2 separate regions of the Homo sapiens genome follow, and region 2 is linked to region 1. The links come from fine-mapping of genetic effects on gene expression. Tissue or cell type: testis. Region 1 holds a variant in brackets; the other region holds the start of a gene. All regions are shown on one strand. Distances are from middle to middle.

Region 1 (11,133 bases):
AATTTAAGATAAAATGAAACAGCACAATAGAAAGTAATTGATACTTATTTTAAAAGGAAAGCTAAGGATAAAGGTGACTTAAATAAAACCTAGTCTTTCTATGTGTATCTAGAAAAGATTAACAAATTAGAAAAGGAAAAAGAAAGTCTATACCTAAAACCTAGCATATGATAAAATAAACTGCACTTATTGTCTTCTTCCCAAATTTTGGAGTTTTCCCATCATTAAAAGCTACCTGAAAATACACCCTCAACTATGTCATTATTTTAAACACATAGCTGGGGAATGAGCCCAATACCACTGGAGAACTTAATGTTAGCACAAGAAATGATGCCTTGCCACCAATCACCTCATATAAGTATGTTACAGTATATTATCTTAGTATTTGTCACAACCTGTTAGCATTTTTCAAGAGCAGTCATGCTGTATGAAGAGCCATGGAAGCCCATGGGGCACCCTCCTTCAGAAATAAGGCAGGCATTGTAGACAGTTCAAAGTAAAAGTGATAACTGTAAAAGCAATGGCTAATCAGCCTGCACCAGCGTTCACAAGCACCTGCCAACATAAGACAAGTAAGTTCTGAAGCATTAATAGGTCCAGAATAGTAGCACTGCTGGAAATCCCAGTGGCTGTCACATTTAAGTGATGAAATTAGTATATCAAGTAGCTTTACCAAGTATACTGGTCTATCGCATCAAGATAATTTCATTTAGTACATATACCACTTTCACCCTAAAAAAAAAGAAAAGAAAAGAAAATAAATCTTCCCCTGGAGTTAATTCTTAGACTTCTGTATCTCTCTTAGAAAGAAAATGCAATATTATTCCAGTTTAAGACTCTAGAATAAATTATCTCAACAGATTCCTAAAATCTGTTCAACTAGATGCTTTATAGGTGATGGTTTTCAGAGACAGCAGTATTCCACTAAAAGATTTCCTTATATTCCCTTAAATTTCAAGTACTAATGAAATTACTTCTTAAATACAAAATCTAACATATACGTGTACATTTCCATTGATAATCACAATTAGATTACTAAAGTTCTTATATTTTAAATGTAAAAGATAATGTAGAGATTACTTAACGTGACCTCCACACTCTATAGATGAAACTCTTTGGCTCACCTCATCAGTTCCGAGACAGAAGTAAAAAGGTGGGTTTCTGAACTCCAATATCATGTCATCTCCATGCCTGTATAGTTTGTCTATAAGTATATATAGTTTGTCTATAGTATAGTTTGTCTATAGTTTGTCTATAAGTTTATTATGTCATCTCCATGCCTGTATAGTTTGTCCATGTAAGTTATCTACTATGAAAAACAGTCCAAATTTATTATGTTTTCTACTTTATCTATACTCCATAAATGCTATTCACAGAAAATCACCAAAAGAACATGCTATTAAAGAATTAAAACACAGAGAATCTTTACATGTTAATTATATTTTTAAAAGACTTGTTTCAAAATTTTCCAACACTCTTAAAAATCTTCAAGTGTTTTTTTTTTTTAAAGTCTATTTCAGCAACTTGGCTTGTGAGGATACTTACTGATTCCTTTAAAGCAAAACTAATACTTATTAAAATGTTGCTCATTTGCAACTGGTCCTTTGATTGAAAAACATTAATGCATTTTTTTGAGAAAGTGACTTGTTAATAGGTCAATTTGTCACCTGGCAAAGAATTTAAGGAATCTGTAACTCACATGCTAATGGTCAATAACAAGCCTAGGGCAGCAAGTAAAATTTGTAGTCAACCAATGCTCCTCAAATCAAGGAAGATGGACCATCTGGTACCTGGATTGGACAATGCTATAATTTCGCACAGTCACCAGTAATATATCAGCTGCACTTTCCAAGTTGGTGGTATTCTGATAATATTTTAACTTGCTTCTAACAGCTGCAAATCAAAGCTTTTTAAGGTTCTTGAAAATGAAAACTAGAGCCAACCCAGTTGGCCTAATGTGTCTTAATCATTCATCACAAGTTTATATGCTGAAGTTTAGTAAAATCTATGATGAATGAACAGCTGACACTTTCTATGTTAGAATAGGCAAGAAAATTAAGATGTCAAATAAGTCTTGCAGAGAATAGTTACACTGTTTCATTACAAAATTCAATTTAATACAATTCTTAGCTGATGACAAAATTCGTTTCAGTTTTTATAAAAAACCATAGCAAAGCATTCTTTTAAAGACGTTGAATTTTCACATTTTCTGTTTCACAAAGAATACAGAGTCAAAGAATATAGAGTAACTTAGAAATATAACTTTTAGATTTTTCTTTTAATTACAGTCTGAGCCAGGCATGAAAGAGCCTCATCTATTTAGGCTCTATTGAATGGTTACCTGTTTCTCTAAGAGGGGAGTGTCATCCGCCTCCCAGAACCCAGCAGACTGGAATGCAATCAAACTCAAACATTGACTGTGATGCTAAGATGTGCTTTGGTGAGTGTTTTATTTTAACTGTCATAATCACATCAGAAAAAAATAATCTACTCAAGTGCAAATTAAAGTGTATCCCTTTTATTTTTTCCCTTCATCAACTCAGACATTATTATGCAGAAAGTGATTTTCAGGTTGAAGATCAGATTTTGTTTAGTGTTTCTATCTTGGCCTTGTACTAGGAAAATGTAGTTTAAGCTTTTTGTACATTGCTAATGTGTGGAAATTGCCCCACTTTTACGGAAGAATGTGTGTGTATGTGTGTGTAACAGAAACACACAGATGTGCATGTTTGCATATGTAACATCTTCTATAATTTGTTTAAAGTTCATTAAACTAATAAATGTTAAATGAGATAAAATTCTAAAACCTATTCTATAAATTGGAGGATGGTCAGTTTGAATGTAGAAGAATACAGAAAAGTTACACCAGTTTTGGTAGGTGCCTTAGGCAGAAGTAAGCAAACTTTTCTGCAAAAGGCCAGATAGTTTAAGCTTTAAATTTTAGAAAAATACTTTAGGCTTTTAATATTTTTAACTATTTCAGTCTTTGCGGTACATAAGATCTCTATTACAACTACTCAACTCTGCCTGTGTAGCTGAAATGACAGCAGCCATACACAATACATAAATGAATTAGTGTGGCTATGTTCCAATAAAACCTTATTTACTAATACTGTGTGCAAACTAGGTACGGCCTACTGACCTTAGTTTGCTAATCCCTGGTTTAGCCTAGAAATCCTGTTCTTTTATACTGATGTCTTACACTTTGTTAACTATCAACACAGTCCTGCATAATAAACACAATTTATATTGCTACTTGGGAAACAAAGTGCTTTTAAATCTTAATCATATTTAAGAATTACAGTAATTCTTTGAGAAAGGCCCTATTGCATTTACCATTTGCAGAGAAGAAAACAAAGGCTCACAGAGGCTTAACTACTGGCCCAAGAGAGTCCCAAAGCAAGTGTTATCTTCCCTCTGCTGGCATTATTTTGTAGCTCACTATGAGAAAACTTGATGTTTACTAAGATAACAGTTAAGGAACTTTGATTTCCCTAATGAAATGTTCAATTTATACATATTTTAAATATCAGAATATGAATTAGGATGTCAAAGGCTCTGTTTTCAAGAAGTGAAGCTAAGGATGAGAGAGGTGTCAAAGACGGTAGTAGGGTTTGCCTCCAGGTGTCTGATAGAGGTGTGACTAACAGATTGGAAAAGTGGAGAAGCAAGAAGAGTTGACGGAACTAGATTAAGGCCCATCTGTGCTCAGAAAAAGAGGCACACTTATAGGTTTACATTTGAATGTATCCACATAAAGAAAATAATTAAGGAAGCCGGGAAGTCTCCAAAACAGGACATAGATAATGATCAAAACTCTGTCTAGATAAGTTTTCAGAGAGGAAGTAGCATTTAACCACCATTTTCTCTTCGATAGACATAAAATTCAGGATTCTGTGAGCTCCTGTGCTCTGAGGCTCCTTTAAAAGAATCAACTTTGTATCCCAAACAAAACTGAAAAACTGTTTGATAAATGAATAAATTTGACATTCAAAACTCCAAGAAGCTACTACCTGGATGTAAGTATCATCTTACAGTTTTACTACATATACCCCTAAAAATAATAATAATAATATTAATAAGCAATTTCTTCCCTGAATTTTACTATAACTAAAATTAGAAGAGAGATTTGCTGAAAAGGAAAAATAGCCACTGATTTTAAGCATTGAATAGACTAAAATTGCTGACTTATGTGCTTTTTAAATGTGAACCTTATCTAATATGAAGGCATTTTCATGGCACTCCTTGTCACTCTACCCAAAGAAAGATTTGTATTCCCTCACTGGAGTTATTAAGAGCTCTTGCTGTAGTACATGCCAAGATAGGTTAACACCCACAATATACTGATGCTTGAAACAAACCTATGAAATGGTCATTTTTAAGTGATGTTCTGGGCAGATCTGACTAAAAAAATTACAACAGCCACTGAAGTCTAGTTGGAGTTAATTTCTCTCCAAATTAACTTCCCAAATAAAGCATAAAGAACATAAAAATGCAAAGAGCACCAAATGTGAATGAATTAATTATGGCGAATGGAAAAAGAATCTAATTTCAAACAAATAACAAACAAAACCTCCACTGAGTGATTCACATCATCTGAAAATTACAGCCATGAACTTCAAGAATTAAAGCAATTAAATTTTAAAAATGAATAATTTTCCCAAGTTAGCATATGAAAATGTAGCACTTCTTATTATCTGGTTGCCTGAAAAGGAGGCTTGGCCTTGAAAACACATTATCCCCAAAGGGCCATGGAAATTAAATATGAGGCAAGAAATCATATTATCTTACATTTGTTCTTCCTAAGTACATCTTCCTTAGATACTCCATCATTCCTGTGATGAAAGGTGTTTCTGAGACACAAGGTACAAGAGGAAAAGTATCAGGTGATTCTTGTTGCCTTATTAAACCTCATATTTCTCTTTAACGTTTGGTGACAATAGTACACAGTAATTCTCTCTTTGTCTATGAATGCATCTAAAAATAACAAGTGAGTTCAAAATAATTTTCCCTTAAAATCCACATCTTGCTTTTCTAGCAAGAGAGAGCTACATAATGCCTGGCATAGAACATGTATTCAAAGTCTCTTTGTACTATTGGTTAGCTTTGGCCCCACCACATACAGTCCTGACCAAGCTACTGATGGTAATGATCTTTCTAATTCAAAGAGACTGCTGCAAAACCTAGCTAACTGCATATCCACCCAATTCAAAAGCTGGAGGTGATTTTATAGTTTAAAAATTCAGAGGAGCCCACAGGCAGCTAAGCTACCAATTTCCTTCATCCCACATATATGTTCTTATACACCTGTTGCTCACAGAGCATAATATAAAAATGCAAAATAAATACCTTTTTGGTTTTGTTTTGCTTTGTGCATAGATAGGATATCCCATGTTGTTCTATCTTGAAGGGTTTCTTCTTTTCCTACTTTTATAAGTAATTATTTTTTTTATTTCCCATTAAAACTTAACTTACATTGATTTTTGCTTTTGTTCAGAAACCTTTTACTGGTGTTGAAAACCTATGCCTGTCTCTTGAAAAATGTATTCACAGCTTGTTTCCAATTGTACCTGTGCCCCACTTCCTGGCAAAACTCTCCTGGTAAATTGGCAGTATGGGAGGTCCACAATTCTGGGCATTCTTCCCTGCATATTCCAGAATGTTCTAACCCCAAGACCATATTTGATGAATAGATTGGGCTTGGCGACTTCATT[A/G]ATAAGGACTCCATTCAAGCATTCCATGTTAAGATATAAGGTTGCTAATGACACATGAAAAAGTGAGTGCAACATAGAAAACTGCACATCTGGAGAGAGTTGATAACATCGGTGCTGTGAAGATTTCTCTTTTGATGTGAACCTTTTACTCTACTCTTTTTACTGATGGGCTAGCTACTCCTCTAAAACACACACTGGCTTTTAAGATTTCAAACTTGCTGCTAATGAATTTTTCACATGGCAAGCTTCTACAGTAACAGAGTTCTGAAAGAGCTTTCACCAATGTTGCAAGAAAAGCTGTCGATCTCTAAATGGATTTTGATAAAACAAGTTAAAAAAATACCTTGGGAATTTTTTAGGAAATGACTTACATAAGCCACTATGTGAGTTTTGCTAGATATTTACTATTTTCCTTGGCTTTCTGCGTGTGTGCCTAGAGCTCAAAATTTCTATAGAATTTTTCTATAGATATGACTTTTTCTGAGATTTCAAGTACTTCATTTGTGGATCCTTAATAGTGAGTTTCACTTTGTATTTTATTTATGGTTAATTGTGTGTCTAAATACTCTACTACAAGATACTTGAGAGCAAGAGCATTTATTTAACATGATACGTCACTAGTCAGTATTTAAAAGACAGACTAGTAAGAATGAATATATTTTCAGTATTTATTTTGCCTTTGGAATTTTACTGGGTGACTTACATACAATTAATCATTTCATTTTCAGGACAAACCTATGAGGTAAGTGGTATTGCCATCATTTGCAATTGAAGAAACATAAGGCTCACAAAATTTAAATAATTTGCCCAAGTTTCTGAAGTTAGCCATTGGTGGAGGCAAAATCCAAGCTCCAATCCATCTCCAAAAGAAATTGCTGAATAGACATCTATTAAATGTATTATAAAAACATATTTGATTATCCCTACATAGCATGCATTACTTCATGCAATTTAAAAGAGCTATAAAAACAAATAAATGGTAACAGTCCAGATTAATGTCTTAGTTCAGGCTGCTGTAACAAGAAGATCATAGGCTGGGTGGCTTAAATAACTGAAATGTGTGTCTTAAAGTTCTGGAGGCTGAAAACTCCAAGACCCAGGTGCCAGCAGATTTGGCATCTAGTGAGGACCCTTCGCCTGATTTAAAGATGACCATCTTCTTACCGTATACTCACTCACATGGCAGAGAGAGGACAAAAGCGAGAGTGAGAGCAAAGACAGGCAGTGGAGATAGCAAGAGAGAAAGGAGACAAGCTCTCTGTTTTCTTGTAGGGGCACACAGATACTACCATGAGCCTCCACCCTCATCACCTGGTTACCCCACAAAGGCCCCCTCTCTAAATGCCATCACACTGGGGATGCGAGCTTCAATGCATGAATTTTGGGAGACACACAAATATTCAGCCCATAGCAATGAGTTATGTAATTTTCATATAACAAGCAATGCCAAATGTGTTTTTGTTTGTTTGTTTTGTTTGTTTGTTTTTTTCCTCACGACGACTCTACGTCCAATACAGGTTGGTAGGGGATTCTGTCCCTCATGAACACTCAATAATTCAGGCTAACTCATTCCCTTCTCTGAACAAATCCCAGTCTGACTTTTAAAGCCTCCATCTGGAAACGAGACAGTTCATTTCTACTCACATTTCATAGAAAAATAAATCATGTAGCCATACCTAACTTAAAAGGGAATAGTGAAATAAAATTCTAACATGTGCCCATACGCAGGAGAATCTGTATATGTGGGAGTAGTTCCAATGACCATTGCATATGCCTACCAAGGATGTGAGATGCTCTGAAAAGATAAATTATACTCACTGTGTATTTACAATACAGCCTCAAAGTTATCTGTTCCAAGGAGCTTCTGGCCCCATGTAGAGTTTTGCCCTAACATTTTTGGAGTCCATATTTATTCTTGTTCCTTAATGTTATTGAGTGGTTGTGAGTCTTATTTTCCCTTGAGAGAATATTATGAGAAAAGGTAAAATAGACCGCAAAACTGCTAACAGTTGACTCTTCTTGTATTCTGGGATTGAGTGCAGTAAGGCTCTCTAAACCAACAGAGCACCTATGGCTTCCCTCCTGCCACACAGACGTCTGTTCAGCCAACCAACTTCTCAAATAATCCAAGTCTTTCTGGTTACTAGTGAAAAGATGAATGTGACCAGGAGTGGTGGCTCACACCTGTAATCCCAGCATTTCGGGAGGCTGAGGCGGGTGGATCACTGAGGTCAGGAGTTTGAGACCAGCCTGGCCAACACGGTGAAACTCTGTTTCTACTAAAAATACAAAAATTAGCTGGGCGTGGTGGTGGGTGCCTGTAATCCCACCTACTTGGGAGGCTGAGGCAGGACAATCGCTTCAACCTGGGAGGTGGAGGTTGCAGTGAGCCAAGATTGCTCCATTACACTCCAGCCTGGGCAACGAGAGTGAAACACCGAAAAAAAAAAAAAAAAAAGCCATCATTCAGCAAAGGATTCGTTCATGGGATTTCATGCCACTGGTGTTTGGGAAAATCATCAGAGAGGCTGATTCTCAGCACTTACAACCCAAGGACTTTAATGAAGGGCTATAAAAATATTCAGTCTGCATAAAGTAGAGGTTTAGTCAGACAAGTCTGGCATCACAGAAATCGTGCAATCGTGCAATAGCTGTGTCCTTTGAGTGACTACCAAGAGACTGCAAAAGGGCAGGAGGAGTTATTGAGTAATTGCCTAAATCCCAAATCCAGGCTTTTATTTTAGAATATCTCTGGTGCATTATAATGAACACCACAAGGCAGAAGAACATGATAAGATTCACTTTGAGAATACCAACATTTACTAATTACCAGACACAAAGGTAAAACCTAGAATCATAGTCAAACAATATAAGGTGACAATAGTAAAATTACAATGAATTTTCAGGGCAAAGATCACCAATTTGATTTGGCTAGGTTTATGTTGAACACATGTATTTTACAATTACACAATTGAAAGAAGGCAGAAAATGAAAAGAAAACAAAAGGTCAATTGTAACTGTCATTGGTTTATCATCCCAGGGGCATCCGGGGACTGAGGTGAGGTGGTAAGAATGATTCTATTGATGAGAGTAAAATGTAGATTTAAAGTCTGAGCTGTAATAAAAAAGGTGGAAACTACTACACAAAGTGTTCATCTTACTCCCGCTTGATTCCCAACAGAAGCTACACTGGAGAGAGAACCAGTGAAAAGCAAAGATTAATTCCAGGGACTCAAGTTTGTAATCCAGTTTACAGCAATGGCTCAGTTTTTCAAGGACAATAGCTAACAAAGTCAAGTCCTCCTAGCATATGATACAGATCAGCCATGAATATCTAGCATAGCTAATTTACTCAAGTTAAATGGACACCTTGCACTGTAGTAGCCTTTTTAAATCTGATTTTCATATATACTTTAGAAAAAGTAGTTTTATCATTCTCAGTTCTATAATATCTCTGATATTATAGTTATCTGCTTTTGTGTATAGAAAATCCTTTTAGCATATTATTGTTTAATATCTAGATAATGCCAATTTTTGAAACAACCTACCATTTAGCTACAAATTTTTATCCTAAAATCAACCCACTTGCAGTTACCACATAACCTCACAAATAACTAGTATCTTCTTCCTTCTCCTAACCAAATTTTTCCCAACTCATTTAATGAGGCCAGCATCACCCTGATAACCAATATCAGATGACACAACAAAAAAAGAAAACTACTTGCCAATATCCCTAATGAACATAGATGTAAAAATCCTCCATAAAATACAAGCAAACTGAATCCAACAGCAAATCAAGAAGATGATACACCATGATCAAGTAGGATTTATAGCAGGACTGCAAGGATGATTCAAGATACACAAATCAATTAAGCTGATACATCATGTCAATAGAATGAAAGAAAAAACGATTTCAACTGACACACAAAAAACATTTTATATAATTCAATATCCCTTTAGGATTAAAAACAAACTAAACATAGACAGAACACACCTCAATATAACAAAGGCCATATATGACAAACACACAACTAACAGCATACTAAATGGGGAAAAGTTGAAATCCTTTCCTGTCAGAACTGGAACAAGTCAAGGATGCTCACTTTCACTACTTTTATTCAGTATAGCCCTGGAAGTCTTAGCCAGAGCAATCAGAAAGAAATAAAATGCATCCAAATTGGAAAAGGAGAGGTCAAATTGTCCATTTTTGCTGATGATATGACCTCATATTTAGGAAAGCCTGAAGATTCCACCAAAATATCTCTTAGATTTGATAAATGAATTCAGTAAAGTTGTAGAATACAAAAGCAATGTACAAAAATTTGTAGCATTTCTGTACACCACTAATGATCTAGTCAACAAAGAAATCAAGCAGGCAATCCCATTTAAAATAGCTACAAAAACAAACAAACAAAAAAACCCCAAAGCCTTGGAATACATTAAACAAAAGGGGAAAGATCTATACAAGGCAAACTACAAAACTTGGGTGAAAGAAATTGAAAAAACACAAACAAATGGCAAAATATCCCATGCTCATGGATGGGAAGAATCAATATCATTAAAATGACCATATTGCCCAAAGCAATCTACAGATTCAATGCAATCTCTATCAAAATAACAATGTCATTCTTCATAGAATTAGAAAAAACGATCCTAAAATTCATATGGAACCAGACTCCAAATAGCCAAAGCAATCCTTAGCAAAAAGAACAAAGCTGGAAGTATTCCATTACATCACTTCAAAAATTATTACAAGGCTAAAGTAGCCAAGACACCACAGTATTGGAAAAAAGTAGATACACAGACCAATGAAACATAATAGAGAACCCAGAAATAAAGCCACATATTTAGAGCCAACTAATCTTTGACAAAGCCAAAAAAATTTATATTGGGGAAAGGAAACCACCTTCAATAAATGGGAAAATTGAATATCCATACACAGAAGAATGAAACTAGACCTCTATTTCTCACTGTACAAAAATCAACTCAAAATAAAGACTTAAATATAAGACCTGAAACTATAAAAATACTAGTAGAAAACCTAAGGAAACCCCTCCTGTATATTGTTCTAGACAAAGAACTTACGACTAAGACCTTAAAAGATCAGACAATAAAATCTAGGAGACAAAAGGGACTTAATTTTTAAAATGCTTCTGCACAGCAAAAGAAATAATAAACAGAGTAAAGAGACAACCTGTTGAATGGGGGAAAATATTTGCAAACTATTCATCCGACAGGGGACTAACATCCAGAATATTCAAGGAACTCAAAAAACTCAACAGGAAAAAAAAACAAATAATCTCATTAAAAAATGGCCAAAGGACATGAATATATATATATATATATACACATATATATATACACATATATATATATATATATATTTCTCAAAAGAAAACATACAAATGGCCAAGAGGTA
Region 2 (11,133 bases), 290 kb after region 1:
AAAAAAAAAGTTGTGTAAATTGTAAATGTATTAAATTAGTTGGTTTGCCGGGGGAGCAGACAGAAAGACAGGTTTCCAGAGAAAGGAAACGCCCACTGGGCAAAGATCAGTGAAAAGGAAACATTATGTATTTTGAAACAAGCAAATAATCTTTTTAAACTGTAGATTTTTAGATAAATACTTGATAAATTAATATCAAATAGATGAAGACTTTAGTGCTTTTTTAATATCCAGCTGTAACCCAACTCTCAAAATACCTGGGACAGAAAAAGTTGCAAAATAAATACTGAAAACAGAGCTAGTTACATTTTTTTTTCTAATCTGTGGAGATAAATGTTCTTACTCCCTCTAGCCCCATGAATAACTTTCCAGCATGAGCTTTGTTGGACTAACCCAATATTTCAATAGGCCTAGTATACTGAAAGAAACCAAGACATGTACTTTAGTTTCTGTGTTTTATGTAACTATATCTTGCCAGAAAACGTTCAGAAAAAGGCATAAACGCATGAACCATTTAATGGTGGTAGCATGGCCAATTCCTGAGAATACAAAATCCAAAGTCAAAGTGATATTGAGAATTAGAGACGTTGGAACAAAATAGAAACGTATTTAGCATGCAAAACTGGAAGGGATACATATATGTATATAGTGATTAATAATACCAGACTATATATATATATATACGTATATATATATATATATATATATATACATATATATATATATATGTATATATATATATATATACGTATATATATATATGTATATATATATATACGTATATATATATATATGAAATGAGGAAAGAATAGATTTTGCATGCATTCATTCAAAATAAATGGTGAATGTTTAATACTGTAAGGCAGTGAGCCAAGTTAGGTATATAGACCCTGGAGTCAGAGTGCCTGGGTTTGAACTGCAGCCTCATTACTTACTAGTAGAGTCACCCTTAGGTAAGTTTATTAAAGTTCCTGTCACACAGCCTTTTTATCTATAAAATGGGGTTAATGTGTAGTATCTACTAAGTTATTGGAAGAATTCAGTAAGGTGATATTATAAAGGTAATAATTTTTAAGTAGGTGATGGGCACATAGTAAATTCTATATAAGAGATTGTTAAATAATGTCACATTACATAAGTAATGAAAACATGATCATGTAGGCCAATAAGTCACTGTTAACTACAAAGTGTTATAATTAATGATCCTAGCAAGACTCAAGGCATAAAACAGTGGCAGAGTAAGCCTGAAACAACATTCTCTGAATTTCCCAGAGTTTTAAGCAGGTGCTATTTTCAGTGGTAGAGTTCCTTTAGAAGTTTAGAGCCACCAACATGAGGAGGATTGGAAACTTAGGTCATAATTCTGATGAATGAGGAAAGACTAGAATGTTTCACACTGACCTTTGATGAGAGTAACTCTCCTAACAAAGAACCTGATGATTCACTGCTCAGTATCTTCCCAGAGGATAGAACAAGAAAAAATAAGCAAGCATATTGTGAAGGCTTTTGGCTAGATATCTGGAAACATTTCTATACCACAAGAATTGCTAAATATTAGAATGGATTGCTGAAAGGGGATCAAGAGTCTACTCCTTTGGAAGTTTTTCAAACAAGGATAAATAGTCTATCTGATCTCCTTGCCATGGTTTAAAATCAGTGCTGAGTGAAAACTGATGGTGCAAACTGCCCCTTGAAGGCCTCCTCCTTCCCAAGCATTCTCTGAAAGCATAACTTTATATATTACCTGTGATACTTCCTCATCTGTTGGGTTTCCATTCTATCCTAGAATAGAAAAGGGCAACACTATTTCACAATTGTGAGTTCTGAGTAAAACTTTGATAATGTCATGATGAAACATAATGTCCTTATTACTTCTCAAGTTATTTCACTAAGCAAGCTACCTGCAAATAGCTTTCAATTAGAAACAGCTGTCATGAATCTGAAGTCTGAACAGCAATTCTTTTAAATTTATGTGCCCTGGCAGATTGAAGACACATGAAATTCTTCAAGCAAACCATTAGATGCCCAATCAAGGCAAAGGATAAAAAAGAGTTTAAGAAAAGATAACCACTTACACTAGATAATTAAATGTAAACAGTATCAAGAACTAGGGAGGAGAGATAGAGTGTGTTCCTGTAACAACAGGGTATATTTCCTAAGTGATTATTAAAACAGCAATAGGTAGCATTAAGTAAAGTTGATTTTGAAAAAACAAGTATATCCTTAAAAAACACAATTATCTTTCAATTCATTATTTTCCTATTAAATGTGCCTCTGACCCTGTGGTGACCTGCATCTTGATTATGTCTACCAGCATCAAAGGACACAAGGCTTAAAGCAAAGTTAACAGTATGCCCTTACTCATGGAAAGTAGGTGAGTTTAAAAAAAAAAAAGTGCACACATTTTAGAAATTCATAGCTAATAAGCAAACACTGTAATTGTAAAAAGGTGGGGAGGAAACCAAAAACAAAAACAAAAACCTCTTTAGTTAAATATCCACCGAAGAATTTACATGAACCCCTGGGAATGTTCTCAACAAACATTCATGGTGACTACAGAAATTGTTTTACACTGAAAATCTTCACTTTGATATTAAAGAGATGTGCCTGATGCTGAGGATGAACTCTAGTCTCCTGAGAGTCCCATTATCCTCTAAAGAATACCGAAGCAATTTAAAAATACCTAACTATTTTCTTCTTTGAGACATCTTATCTGAAATCATGTTGGGAAATATCTTGTGTGCTTAAAAGATACCGTTTGAAAAAGCCCAGATTAAAGGAGAAAAAGTTCCTAGAAGAAGTGATCCATACTATAAACCTTTTAAAAAGTTGAATTCCCTGAGATTTGGGGAGGGAAAAAAAAAAGCGAAGCTGATCCTTATCAATTAATTAAAAAGAATGAAATAACAGTAGACAAAGGAGAAGGAGAGTTAAGAAACTTAAGGAGCTGTGGGGACAGTCGCTCTCTATTCATTGATTAACAAATTAAGGAGTTCTGGAAAAGAAGGAAGAAGTAACAAGGATAGAAAAGTAGGCTTATAATTCACCACAGATTCTAACTTAGACTCAGCAAAGGGAATGTCTGGCTCTGAACTGAAAAAGCTCCTTCTATATAATGAGCGTGGTAATTTGCGCCTCTTTTTTTCCCCCTTTGCCAATGCTCAAATTTATTTAAATGTGTTCATTTCAGTGTAAGTAAAAACCCTCACTTCTACAGCTTGAAAATCATAAGAAAATAGTAATTCCTCAACGTATCGAAACTGTGATGTTCTAAGATATCTGCAAAATGCTTTTCATCCATCCACCAGTTATTTGGCAAAAAGCAGACAGAGGCTGGTGGAAATTCAGCGTTTTGACTTGACGATCTGAGGTCACTAAGGACTTCAGCTGCCCGGTTTGAGCAGCCCGCGCCCTCGCAGCATCTCCTGGCCTCCCTCGGCCTCTCTCAGTTCTGTTCTTTAGCAGCCAAAGGATTATCTCTCCCCGACACGTTTCATTCACAGAGCCCCAGAGAAGCTCGGATTCGGTTGGAGCTAAGAGCCGGAAAACAAGCACCCAGACTGCCGCGCAAGTTGTCGGAGACCAAGTGCTACACACACTGGCGCCGAGAGAAAGGGTGGGCGCTCTCAAGCTCTTGGTGGAGCAATGCCAGTGGCCGGGCATGCGGGGGACACGGGGCCCCCGAACCCGGACCCGAATCCCCAGCTGAGCCACCCGCTAAAGTTGGCTGTTCGCTGGCAGACGAGGCCGGCTCCAGACCGGGTGGCAGGGTGTCCCCGGGCCCTGAGTGGCCAACAGCAACTGGGGAAGCACTGAGGAACCCTAACGGGAAAGCCCGCCCCACATCTGAAACAGGCAGCCCGTGAAGTCCCCAAACCAGCCTTGAAACGCCGGCGTCCAGAGGCCAGGTCCCCGGCGAGGGTCCCTCCCAGCCTTGCCCGCCCCCGGCCCGAGCGCCGGGCGCTCTGTCGCCCGAAGGACGGATAGGGGAGAGAGGGGCTGGGGGAGCCCTCCGCGTCTCTCCACCGCCCCTGCCGGCGCAAGGGCGGGAGTGGAGAAGGCGCCACTCAGACTGTGGCGCTGGGCAAACTGCGGTCGCAGTTCTTCCAAGTTTGCCCGAACCAGAACGCGGAGTGAGCGCCCGGCTCGGCTCTCCGTCTGCGCCTTGCAGCCGCCCCGGAGTGACCCGGGCTCCCTGGCCAGCCGGGCCTGAGCCATCAACTAAGGGGTAGAAGGGCGCGAGAGCAGCGGGAGGCGGGAGCCAGGGTGCTCCCGCGTGTGCACACAATGAGGCGGCGGAGACGCACACCTTCCCCCGCCGAAGAAGCCGCAGGAGCATCCGCCGCCCAACACGGAGACGCGGAGTCCCATAGCGGTGGCAGAAAGTGAGCACCAACTCAGCAACAGGGGGAAGGAAGGGGACGCCGGGCGGCCAGTGGGACGTGCGGCAGCCGAGGGCTGCAGCCTGCCCCTGCAGCGCGCCCGCGCTTACCTGCGATCTCCTGGTAGGGGATGTCCGCCAGGCTGAATCCCTTGGCACCGTACGCCTGGCGGACCTCTCCGCAGCTCCGAGCCTTCACATCCGCCCCGGCGGGGAGGGAGAGCAGCAGCCCCAAGAGGGGAAGAATCACAGCCCCGATCCAAGAAGGCATGGTGCAACATACAAATCCAGCTCGGTAAACCCCACGGCCGGTGCGCTCTTCACCTTGCCCCTCAAGCCGAAAGCCCGCCAGAGGCAGCGGCGCGCTCCTCGCCGCTGCCCAGCGTCACCCCCTTCTGCCAGCCGAGGGGACGAGCAGCGCAGCCCTCTGGACTGCGCTCAGCAAACTTTTATAAGCCAGATGGACGATGGCAAGCCAACAAGGGCTGGCTGGGAAGGCTGCTGCCTTGCTCCTCTAGCCCCCAGATGGAAACGGTGCAATCAAAACGAGGAAGAGAAGGAAAAGAAGTGTTTAAAAAACCACCATGGGGGTTCAGAGCTGCAATCCGAGTTCCGAGCCGCAGAATCCTGGAGCGCTGCGGGCTCGGCTCGCCGGAGTGTGCGGCAAAGGTGGGAGCGCGCGCCGGCTCCCCCGGGAGGGAGATGGACAAGCGAGAGCGAGTGTGTATGCGCGCGTGTGTCTGTTGGTGTGAGCTCGAGGTTCTTGGGGATGTGTGTGCGTGGAGGTATGTGTTGGGGATATACGAGATCTAGGGGAAACCTCAGCTTAACACAGGCTGTGGGAGCCTGTGAGAGTCCTCCTGAAATAGGAAGAGAGAAATCCTGGAGACAGTCACTGGAGGCAAGAGGGAAGGAGAAAGGAGGGGGGAGAAAGAAACGTGCTACACATTGCACAGCCGAAATTCACAGGCCGAGTCAAAGGCAAAACCTGGACTGGATCTCTTCCTAGTCGGTAGAAAGGGGAAAAAAAGAAAAAGAAACGTACCTATTTTCTTATTCACTTCACATCCTTTATACCGATCTGAAATGACATCAATAAACAATCTAGAAAGACAAGGTAATTTTAAGTCATTAACATGTTATTAAGCTGTATTTTTATGGAGGTAAAGGATAACGCAGTTCCAATTGTTGCTCTTAATATGTGTCCCTGACCTACTGAAACACAAAGCCAGAGTGGAAATAGTCATAGACGGGAGTTCATGGGTGGCAGAGCACAATCACGGCTCTAACTAGTTGCCTAATTTCTGTTTGACTTTGTTTTTTTCTAAAGGCACACATTACAGACTGGTAGTTCTTAATTTTTAAAGGTTTGGTTCTAGACTCAACAATTTCCCCTTTTTTTATTTCAAATATCTCATAGCCTTCGATCAGAAATCATTATGCTTAGGTTTCTAATGTGTGGAGGATCGGGAAAGCTAACAACCAGACCACAGAAGCAACAAGAAAAGGAGAGCACAAGGGTCAGAGGTGCATAAAGGGACATAATGGGGGAAGGGAGGTGATTCCTTCCCTCTCACTAGATGCCCTCACATAGTAGACTTAACATTTTCTTCCAAGTTAACATAATTCTCAAGTGGAGAATCAATCCAATTTCTTCTTCCTGTCTCCATTTACACTGATGTTCTGTGAACGGGATAAAAGTGAAAATTCAGGTTTGCCTAATTGACTTTGTTATGCTAATGGACGCACTAAAGTCAGCTGGCAGAAGTGTGTGTTGAAACCCAGAGCTCCTGAAACTACTAAGATAGTTTAATGAAAACCAAGACAAAATAATAATAATAATAGTGTTTATTCACTTACGTGGCTATGTGTCATAGGTCAGCACATTATTCACAAACTACTACAAGGTAATGCACAGTTTTGTGGAGCTCACCTATGAAGCTACACATGAAGATGTTTTCCTGATGATGATATGAATGACCAGAATGACTCATGAAGTTTAAATCTTTGAGTTTGTCATTATCATCACAACATATTAGGTACATTGTCTTCCTCTCTTTAATAAATTCCCCCTCTCCTAACCACCAAAAAGACTCTCAAGATTCAACCTCATTTAACCTTTCCAAACGCTTTAAAAATGAAGTCGACTTATTTACAGAGCCACTTTGTCTTCTTCAAACTCATAGGTCAAGACAAAACAAAACCAAAAAAAAAAAAAACAAAACAAAACAAAAAAAAAAACTCCATAGCTAAATCTTTCTGAAAACGCAACACACTTAACTTTTTTTCTCTTAAAATTTTAGCACAGTTTTTTGCTTTCACAATATTTATGCTAACTGGCAGATCTTAAATCACTGAACTTATTTTCCCTCAAGTCGGAAATCAAGATAAAATATATTCTGGTTATGTTTGTGGACAAACGGTGAGGTTGATAGGCTCAGGAATTGCAGTCAAGTTATTACTTCTGTCATATTTGACAACGTGACTTCCTTCAAACTTCTCTTTGTATCATAGTAAAGCATTATGCACTCCAGAGGAAGAGGGTAAAAACACACACTTCCTGTCCTACCACCTTATCCTGGGACTCATTGTAATTTACCCTGACTCAGTATAGCAGATAATTCATTATTTTAAATGGAGGTAAAGGAAGAATGGGTAAAAGCATAGTATATGTGGTTTTAAATTATTTGAAGATCAGCTAATTGTTAAGTATTGAATGAGCACTCAATACAACTTTATAGCACTAGACTATTGCACACCGTCCCTATACTTATAAAATGATCTTAGGATTTGTGGCAAAGATATTACATGAGACGAATGACTAAATAGATTAGTTTAATTCCATCAGGAGAGTCAAATAGTTTAGGGTAGGTTTGTGAACTCAAGTCAGACCAAAGAATTAGATAACTTGCTTTACTGGTGACCTTAACCCTGCCTGGTCCATTTGTTGAGTAATGTCACACTGTTTGCAGTGGTGTAAGAGACAAAGTCAAACATTCCAGTTAACACTGAGAGCCACAGCAGGAGCCTAGACAAGGGATTGGAATGAGAATGGAATGTTATGGAAGTTCCTGGAAGAGGCCTGACCAGACAGGAGAGAGGTCATATGGAGGAGCAGGCATCTGGTTTAGACAAAAAGGTCAGCTAATGGCTGGAATCCTAGCTGTAGTATTCATCTTGTGTGTAGTAGGAAAAAAGAATATGGATAAATGCCATACAAGAGGAAGCAAACGAGGCCAGGCACGGTGGCTCATGCCTATAATCCCAGCACTTTGGAAGGCCGAGGCAGGCAGATCACCTGAGGTCGGGAGTTTGAGACGAGCTTGACCAACATGGAGAAACCCCGTCTCTACTGAAGATACAAAATTAGCTGGGCGTGCTGGCACGTGCCTGTAATCTCAGCTCCTCGGGAGGTTGAGGCAGGAGAATCACTTGAACCTGGGAGGCAGAGGTTGCGGTGAGGCGAGATCGTGCCATTGCACTCCAGACTGGGCAACAAGAAAGAAACTCCGTCTCAAAAAAAAAAAAAAGGCCGGGCGCGGTGGCTCACGCCTGTAATCCCAGCACTTTGGGAGGCCGAGGCGGGCAGATCACGAGGTCAGGAGATCGAGACTATCCTGGCTAACACGGTGAAACCCCGTCTCTACTAAAAATACAAAAAATTAGACGGGTGTGGTGGCCGGCACTGCAGTCCCAGCTACTCAGGAGGCTGAGGCAGGAGAATGGCGAGAACCCGGGAGGCGGAGCTTGCAGTGAGCCGAGATCCCGCCACTGCACCCCAGCCTGGGTGACAGAGGGAGACTCCGTCTCAAAAAAAAAAAAAAAAAAAAAGCAAACAAATAGCATGAGGTAAACGGATACCTAGAATAGGACGATGGAAAATGGAAAGATGTAGATAGATTCTGAGGAAAGGATTGGCAGGAGTTGGTGCTTGGTTCAATACACAAGAAGAATTACTAAATATTTATTTTAAGATTGTGTCTCTGCTGGGTGTGGTGGCTCACGCCTGTAATCCTACCACTTTGGGACGCTAAGGAGAGTGGCTTGCCTGAGCTTCGGAGTTAGAGACCAGGCTAGCCAACATGGCGAAACCCCTTCTCTACTAAAAATACAAAAAATTCGCTGGTGTGATGGTATGTGCCTGCAGTCCCAGCTACTTGGGAGGCTAAAGCAGGAGAATCCTTTGAACTCTGGAGGTGGAGGTAACAGTGAGCAGAGATCACGCCACTGCACTCCAGCCTGGGAGAAAGAGTGAGACTCTGTCTCAAAAAAAACAAAACAAACAACAACAAAAACAAGACAAAAAAAAGATTGCATCTCATTAGGAAAATATGGTACGTTTAATAAAAGACAATACAACTCCTGTTTATACAGTACTTTCACATCCCAGCTGGTTTTCACAACAACCCGTTTTGGGCATCACATGAATGGAACCTCAGAGACTTTCAGTTGTAGAGAAAAATAGACACAGTCTTGAAGAGCAGCCATAGGTGACAGACGAGTCGTGCAGCCCCTGTCAGTCACATATCCCACAGCCATCGCCCTTTCTTTTTTGCTTCTCTAAGACTGATTATGTCAGGGGGCATTGTGCTCACCACCAAGGGATGAATCACAATTAGCACTTTTCCCTGGTGTAGGGGTGGGTGTAAGACCCATTTCTAGCCAATGTGATTTATGGAGATTTCTGAAAAAAAAAAAAAAAAAAAAAGTGTTTTCCCTGATTAAAGGAGCAGAAGGGCCATTTTGCCTCAGCCTCCTGCCTTCTTAGAGCTACACAGCCATCTTTTGCGTAAGAGACAAGACATTGCTAGAAGACAGACAATGACAATGGAGGGATGCAAAGAACCTTGAGTTCCTATTTGAGTCACCAAACCAGCCTTAGGACTTCCAACTTCTGGACTTCTTGTTAAATAATCAATAAATATCCTGTTGTTTACACCATTGTTAGTTGGTTATTCTACTGTTTACAAGTAAAAGCAACTTAACCTATACACCAAACTCAATGAATAATAAGAAAATTTAAAGGCAAGAGACAGTGAATAGTTGCAAAGGTAAGAAGAGAACAAAAACATTAGGTAGCATCGTGGAACCCAGGTGAGGAGATTTTCAAACATAAAACAAATTGCAGTGGACAAGAAAGAGATGGAGATAATGGTACTTGGACAATGATAAGGAAGCTTACTGGAAATTTTGAGAGAAACATTTTAGTATAGTAAACTGGGTGGATGCTAAACCACATGGAATCGTGTGTGAAGTAGGTGGAAAGAATATGGAAATACCAGGTAAAACTGATTAGAATGTGGTAACTGTATGTGGAAGGGGCAGAGAGGTAGTCAGGAATGCTTTCCAGAAGTTTCTAAAACTTCAGGGAAGAATGAGTGGACATAAAAAGAGAATGAAATCCAATATGATCTTACTGGGTTGGTTGATTTTAAATTTTTTTTCTCTTATCTGCATTTTTCATGTTTTCTACAGTAAAGATGAGTCCTTGGTTATGAGACAAAAAATATTGTTTTGACATGAATATGTCACACGTTTAACATAAATACAAATTATAGCATTTGGTTCATGTTTTACAAAATAAAAAGGTCTTACCCTATCTCATGTAAGTAAAACAATTGGCTGTTAATATGTTTCTGAATCAAATAATAACTCTGAAGTATGAAATGTCTTGTGTTAATTTTTTAAAAGCCTTGGGTTTATAAAAAAAATAAAAAGCAGAGCTACAGCAGAATTTATCATCCTTTTGCTCAGTTATAAAAATCATGAATGAAAATAATAGGTGAATTTTAGTTTTTTCTTAGTATTTTTTAGATCAAAGTAGGACAAATAACTTCAAATAAAATCTTAGGAAAACAGGAGAATGGACTTCAAGTGTCTATTCCACATCTCAGCTTGGCACAAATCAAAATCGCTTAGTTAACCTGCCTCTTGAAAAACAGGGCCTGTAATGAAAAAGCTGTCAGAAATTTAACAACAGTAGCTCTGCCAGGTGCCTGGATAATGGGAAGGTTGCTGAGTTACAGAGAAAGAAAAGGTAAACCTGGGTGAATAATGACCAGAAATGGTGAAAATCTTTCATTTCCATCTTATGGTTTATATCCAATGAAATACTAATAGTTCATTTAACATTTATTGAGCCTTAAACATATACCTAGTGCTAATATAAACCAATTAAAATTATATCTTTAGGGCAGCTGAGAACAAACTGGGTTACTAATGATCTCTTGGGGGGAAAACCAAACACCATGGGGCAGCAGATTCTTCTTGTCTTGCAATATTCTTCTAAGACTCTGAAGCCAGAACTGTTTGGCTTCAAGGAAGGGAATCATGTGATCTACTTAATCAGATTTTCTCCTAAAAGTTATGACAGGGTTTATCCAAGAGAATTGAAAGGACTCTAATTATTTAATTATGTTTAGTCTTCATATATGTCAGAAACTTAGACAATAAAAATATTCCATATAATCTTAAGATTTACTCATCGTTACCTAAAATACTACTATCAATAGTCAAGGACACAGAATAGAAAATGTATTAAGATATCACAATGATTTAAAATACTATTTTCAGGCCAGGTGCAGTGGCTCACACCTATAATCCCAGTACTTGAGGCCAGGAGTTTGAGACCAGCCTGGGCAACATATCGAAATCCTATTTCTACAAAATACACAAAAATTAGCTGGGTGTGGTGGGGTGCACCTATAATCCCAGCTACTTGGGAAGCTGAGGTGGGAGGATCACCAGAGCCT

The links. PIP is the estimated chance that this variant, and not a neighbour inherited with it, causes the effect.
Region 2: GPC6 starts here. The variant in region 1 is fine-mapped to the expression of GPC6 in testis (GTEx, PIP above 0.99).

What each region holds. Positions count from the first base shown.
Region 1 is chr13:93,510,916-93,522,048 of GRCh38, reverse strand. All of the region lies in intron 1 of GPC6 (glypican 6), which reads right to left. Among named protein-coding and RNA genes, the nearest start is that of GPC6, 290 kb to the right of the region's middle. The variant A/G (reference allele first, on the strand shown) is at 5,715.
Region 2 is chr13:93,220,976-93,232,108 of GRCh38, reverse strand. GPC6 (glypican 6) reads right to left here and starts at 5,302. Exons shown (of 9, transcript NM_005708.5): 1 at 4,493-5,302. The coding sequence starts at 4,652. RefSeq lists silencers at 3,519-3,813, 8,033-8,218 and enhancers at 3,867-4,709, 7,116-8,066.